Regions from separate parts of the Homo sapiens genome. Here region 2 is linked to region 1. The links come from fine-mapping of genetic effects on gene expression. A gene starts in region 1. The other region holds a variant in brackets. All regions are shown on one strand. Distances are from middle to middle.

What was found. PIP is the estimated chance that this variant, and not a neighbour inherited with it, causes the effect.
Region 2: its variant is fine-mapped to the expression of TMEM176A in whole blood (TOPMed, PIP 0.95).

Annotation. Positions count from the first base shown.
Region 1 is chr7:150,799,601-150,802,355 of GRCh38, forward strand. It overlaps TMEM176A (transmembrane protein 176A), which reads left to right and starts at 1,169. Exons shown (of 7, transcript NM_018487.3): 1 at 1,169-1,228; 2 at 1,936-2,124; 3 at 2,615-2,725. The coding sequence starts at 1,951. It overlaps TMEM176B (transmembrane protein 176B), which reads right to left and starts at 764. Exons shown (of 7, transcript NM_001101312.2): 1 at 698-764. RefSeq lists enhancers at 1-460, 461-1,160, 1,161-1,860.
Region 2 is chr7:150,852,674-150,855,682 of GRCh38, forward strand. All of the region lies in intron 1 of AOC1 (amine oxidase copper containing 1), which reads left to right. The region is part of intron 1 of LOC105375567 (a long non-coding RNA gene); the gene reads right to left. Among named protein-coding and RNA genes, the nearest start is that of AOC1, 1.7 kb to the left of the region's middle. The variant G/A (reference allele first, on the strand shown) is at 1,697.

The DNA of each region.
Region 1 (2,755 bases):
TTTCACCCACCTGGCCTCCTTGGGGTTAGAAAGGACAGGAGTTAGACAATTCCGCACACGTACAAAGGAGCTTCAGACTGCTTCCAGCCCAGCCCCAGATTCCAGCCAGACCTTCCCTTGACGGCCCAGGCCTCGCCCTGAGGGCACCTCGGGTTCCAGCTACCTCCGGGCCCCCAGGACCACCGCTTCCCCCGCCCCACGCCAACCCCTAGATCTGCCTCGCCCCCGCCTGAAGAGTCGGATCTGAACCAGGCCGGCACCACGGAGATTCCCCTGCGGGCCGCCCGACGCCTGGTAGGTGGTGGGCTCTTCCCGGCTGCCCCGAACACTTTCCTCTGTCCAGCTCTTCCCGTGCCCCGGGGCTGGGGAAAGCGTCCGGCAGCCCCGCCGCTCCCTGGCCCCGTCCCAGGAGCCACCCCACCGTAGGGCTCCAGCCAGGGTCCAGGCGTGCAGGCGGCAGAAGGTGGACGGGACGCGCCAGCCCCAGGCCTCTCCTCCCGCTCTCCAGCCGTTTTTCTGGGGAGAAACACCTGCACCCAGCTGTCCCTCCCTCCTACGTGAGTCCTCCTGGAAACCAGGTTGGAGGAAGAAAGACGTCCTGTGGACAGGACGGGGTGGGGGCATGGCCCTGGGGACTCCTCGTGACAGAGGGTCCTGCGGCAAGAGGGTCTCCCGGGCCGCGGAGGCCCTGCCTCACCTGCAGTCCTCCGGGAGCCCGCGGCCGAGCAGAGCGGACACTAGCTGACCCCGAGCAGGGGAGCGACGGGAGGGCGGAGACGGCAGATGCACGGGTGGGGGCTGCGGCCCCGCCCAGGCTGCGCGGTTTCCCGAAACCAGCTGCGGCCCGGGGGCCCGGCAAAGGGGGTTCCGCCCGGAGGAGCGGACCGGGCGGGAGAAGACCGAGCCCCCGCGCGCCCCCTGCGCTCCCACTCGCGCACACTTGCACGCCGGCCCTGGCCGGGCGGGGCTGGAGGCGAGAACGACCCCACGGGCTTTCCCAGGGCCGTCCGCCCGCGGACCCTCCCAGCTCCCCAGAGCCCAGTGACCCTCGCGCAGCAGGAGAACCCCAGACGGACCCCAGGCCCTGCAGCCTGTCATGAACCCGAGGGGCTGAAGTTCAGCCCCACCCCCGCCTCCCCTCCCCGCCTCCCCCTCCAACTCTCAACCCACTTCTCCAGCCAGCGCCCCAGCCCTCCCGCCGCCCGCTCGCAGGTCCCGAGGAGCGCAGGTGAGGCGGCACCCCACTCCCGGCGGCCCCCGGGCCTCCTTCCGCACGCACCCCGAGCTGCCTCCGCACAGTTGGAGGAGCGTAGGAGGGACCCCCACCCAGGGATGACACTCCAGGAAGGGGACTGCAGAGGAAGCCAGGTGCGGCCCCGGCTTTTGACCTACCTCCGCACCGCAGCGCGGTCCTTCACGGGGCAGGGGCGGCGTGAACCCGTCGGGCGTGAGCAGCAGTCGGTGGAGCGGGAGGTCGGCGGTGGCGGGGATGGGGGTATCCGGAGCGCAGCCGGGGCGCAGCTGCTGGCACAGGAGCTCCACAGGCAGCCAAGGACTCGGTCCTGTCCCAGAGCCTGCGGACTGTGGAGGGGAGGCCGCAGGAAGAGCCCGGGAGGAGGGGGTGAGGGGTCGAGGTGTGGGGCGCTGCTTGACCCAGACGCCAGGGCCCTGGGAGGAGGATGAGGGGGACAGAGCAGATCTTGGGCGAAAGGGGAGGTTCCCGCAGGCTCTGTAGTCGCCGCAGTTCCAGCATGGTCAGCACCCCCTCTGCTACACACATTCCCCTCGTGAGGGGCCAGGGGTGCGGCCCTGTGACCAGGACAGCCATTCATTGGGTGACTTTGAGCCACCACTGGCCCCTGACCTCCCCAACTCCAATGAAATCTGCGAAAATCTTCTGACAGCCGTTCCTCTCTGGTGCTCCCTTCCTCATAGACTGTGTCCCTGACAATGGGAACAGCCGACAGTGATGAGATGGCCCCGGAGGCCCCACAGCACACCCACATCGATGTGCACATCCACCAGGAGTCTGCCCTGGCCAAGCTCCTGCTCACCTGCTGCTCTGCGCTGCGGCCCCGGGCCACCCAGGCCAGGGGCAGCAGCCGGCTGCTGGTGGCCTCGTGGGTGAGTGTGACGGCCTGCCTCGTCGGGCGGCGGGAGGAACTCCCCACCTCCAGCCGCAGCAGCACTCTCTGCCAGCCTCCCTCTGAACAGGACACCGAGCCAGTTATGTCTTCTTACTTAGCGATGTGATTCTCTGGCCTTCTCAGTAAGAGCCTGGGGAGGGGAGGCTCTGGGCTGAAGGGGTGTGGAGGAGCCACTGACCATGCAGAGTCCCAATCAGTGGAGCCCTGAGTCCATCCTTTCCTCTGGGCCAAACTCAGGATGGGCCGGCTCTCCTCTCCTTCCTTTCCCTTCTCTTTTCTCCTCCTCCTGCCTCTTCTTCTTTCTCCTTCTCCTCCTCTTTCTTCTCCTTTTCTCTTCTCTTCTCTTCTCTTCTCTTCTTTCTTTCTCTCTCTCTCTACCTCTCCCTCTCTTTTTGGGGTTTTAGCGGTTAATCCCTGCAGTGGCAGGTCCACCTAGGAGCCGGGATCTTGGGTCCTTTGTCTTTCAGGTGATGCAGATCGTGCTGGGGATCTTGAGTGCAGTCCTAGGAGGATTTTTCTACATCCGCGACTACACCCTCCTCGTCACCTCGGGAGCTGCCATCTGGACAGGGGCTGTGGTGAGTAGAGCAGGACAGTGCTTGACTGCC
Region 2 (3,009 bases), 53 kb after region 1:
GGCCAGGAAGTGAGGGCGGGAGCCCAGCACATCACAGAAGGTGCCCGGGTGCTTGGTGGCAGGCAACAGCCGGCCAGGGTGGAGTGGGGAAAGCTCAGAGAGGAGGGTGAGCAGGGAGAGGGCTTGCTTCCTGTTCCTGCCTGGAGGTCTCACCAGCCACCACCCCCACTGCCACTGCACATGGGGACAGAGGTTTGTCCTGGGGAAAGCAAAGGTCTCTTCCACATCTTTCTCCTTCCTGGAAAAGCAAAAAGAAACGTGGGTATAAGAGGTTGTAAAAAAGGAGACCCAGCCGTGAAAGGACATGGAGGTACCCTAAATGCACACTGCCAAGCAAAAGAAGCCAATCTGAAAAGGCTGCAGACTGTAAGATTCCAAATACAGGACGTTCTGGAAAAGGCAAAACTATGGAGACAATAAAAAGAGCAGTGATTGCTAGGGTTTCGGAGGAAGAGGTGGAGCACAGAAGATTTTGGGGGAGGTGGAACTATTCTGTGTGATATTCTAATGGTGGATCCATGTCATTGTCCGTTTGTCCAACCCATAGAATATGCAGCAGCAAGAGTGAGTCCTGATGTAAACTGTGGGCTCTGGGTGAGAGTGATGTGCAGGTTCATCAGCCACAAATGTATGGCTCTGGTGTGGATATTGATAGTGGGGAGGCTGCGTGTGTAGGGGCTGTGAGTATACAGAAACTCTCAGTACCTTTCGCTCAATTTTGCTATGAACCTAAAATTCCTCTTTAAAAGACTCCTATTTAAAAGACTTTAATAGACTTTATAAAGTTTGTTAAAAGACTTTTAATAGACTTTTTAAAGACTTTTAACAGACTTTATAAAGTCTATTAAGAAATCTATTAAAGTCTATTTTTAAAAGTCTATTAAAAAAAAAGTCTACTATAATCCCAGCACTTTGGGAGGCCAACGCAGGAGGATCACTTGAGCCCAGGAGTTCAAGACCAGCCTGGGCAACATAGTGAGATCCTGACTATATATATATATATATATATATATATATATATATATTTATTTATTTATTTATTTAAGTCTAATAAGAAGTCTATTTGGGGCCAGGCCTGGTGGCTCATGCCTGTAATCCCAGCACTTTGGGAGGCTGAGGCAGGTGGACCACTTGAGGTCAGGAATTCAAGACCAGCCTGACCAACACGGTGAAACACCATCTCTACTAAAAACAAAAAATTAGCCGGGCATGGTGGTGCACACCTGTAATCCCAACTATTCCAGAGGCTGAGGCAGGAGAATTGCTTGAACCTGGGAGGCAGAGGTAGCAGTGAGCCAAGATCGCATCACTGCACTCCAGCCTGGGCTACAGAGCAAGACTGTCTCAGGAAAAAGAAAAAATAGTCTATTTAAAGAAGAAAAAAAAGAGGCCTGGCCAATATTTAATAGGAGAACACAAGAACTCACCTCATATCCTTCCTGCTGGCTCTGGGTTCCGCCTGCAGCCCCTGCCTCACCTGCTCCCTCCAGGTAAGCAGGGCCTCCGAGAGCCCAAGATCATGTGGGTTCCAGGGTCTTCTGCCAGCACCAGAGGGCAAGACAAGGCAACTAGAGGGACATCCCCATGAGAGGCCATGACCATGGAGCAAAACGAGGGCAAGGGGAGAGCCCTCGGGGAGAGGGGCATGGGAAAGGGAGAGAAGGACATCTCAGATCAGCCTTTACCGTGGCCTCCA[G/A]GGCTAGAGAGCCCTCGGGTGATGGAACAGGCCCAGCCAACACCTTTCATTTGTCTATGAATCAAGAACTGCCCATCGTGTACAAATTAAATACAAAGTGCTAAGGGGACTAGTGGAGAAGTATGTTAGTTGGGGCCAAAAACAGCATTCCTCGGCAGTGCGGGGTTTCAGCTGACCTCAAAAGGTGGCAAAGGATGTGACACTGGCCCAGAGTCGGGTGGGAAGGGACAATGTGCAGCTGAGCTTCTCTGGAGGAAAAAAGCCACGGGAAAACAGGGCCTCTAGTTAACACATGGGTTGTGTTCCCAACGCTTGTGCTTCGGAAATGTGATGTGTAAATGCATTTTCCAAAAACAAAAGCAAGAAATGAAAAGCGCTCATGATGGTCAGGTTTCCTCAGTGGGTCACTCCACGATACACCCAAAGTGGAGCTGCTGCACCTCAGTTACACCTCACACCCTGTGCCGCCGACTTTCCAGGTGAAATCCTCGGGGCCTCCCTTGCAGGCAGCCTGGGCCCCCTGGGAAGAGGCTGGGCCAGGCAGAGGTCTGAGACAGGAGTGGATTAACCCTCTCTGCTACCTGTCTGTCTGCACAGGAGAACGAGTTTTCTCCAGGTTTACCCCCAGGGCTTCTGATTTAGGGAGCAAAAGGCAACTACCTATGAAAATATGAAAACAAGGATCTCTCAGAGTCCAACCCACTCATGCATCCACCTTATAAATCAAGTGTCTGTGCCTCAGGCACTGCTTGCAGGAAGTGAAAAGCACAGCTGAGACAGGGAGGAATCCTGAAGCGGGGCTCCCAGCTCAACCCAGAGCCTTGAGGAAGGGGGTGCAAGGTGGCAAAGGCAGTGCTTCTGTAGGGAAATTTCACGGTGACGGCAGCCTTCCAGGGAGGCCCACATCACCTAGGAGGACAAGTTAGGGTCTGGAGAAACTAAGGCTGGGAGACAGCTCCAGCCAGCATCTGTAGCAACAGCGCAACAGGCAAGAGTAACAGTCTCCCAGAGACTCCGCACACAGCACATGGGAAGACAGAGCTGTGGCCACCACGTCTCCCAGCCCTGCAGGAGGCTCACAGCTACAAGCACAGGATTTTACAGCTGCTTGGGGAATGGGGTTATGAGGTGAAGACCCTGACCCACCCTCCCTGAGAAAGGAAAAGGCATCTTCCTAAGATGAAACCCTCCCTGAGGTCCCCTCCTAGTAGCCTTGGGTGGACAAGAGAGGTGAATGGGGCACAAAGAAGGCTAGGCAGGACTGGGCACCTCTACCTCACCCCCAAAGCCATCAGTCTGCAGCCTAGTCACAC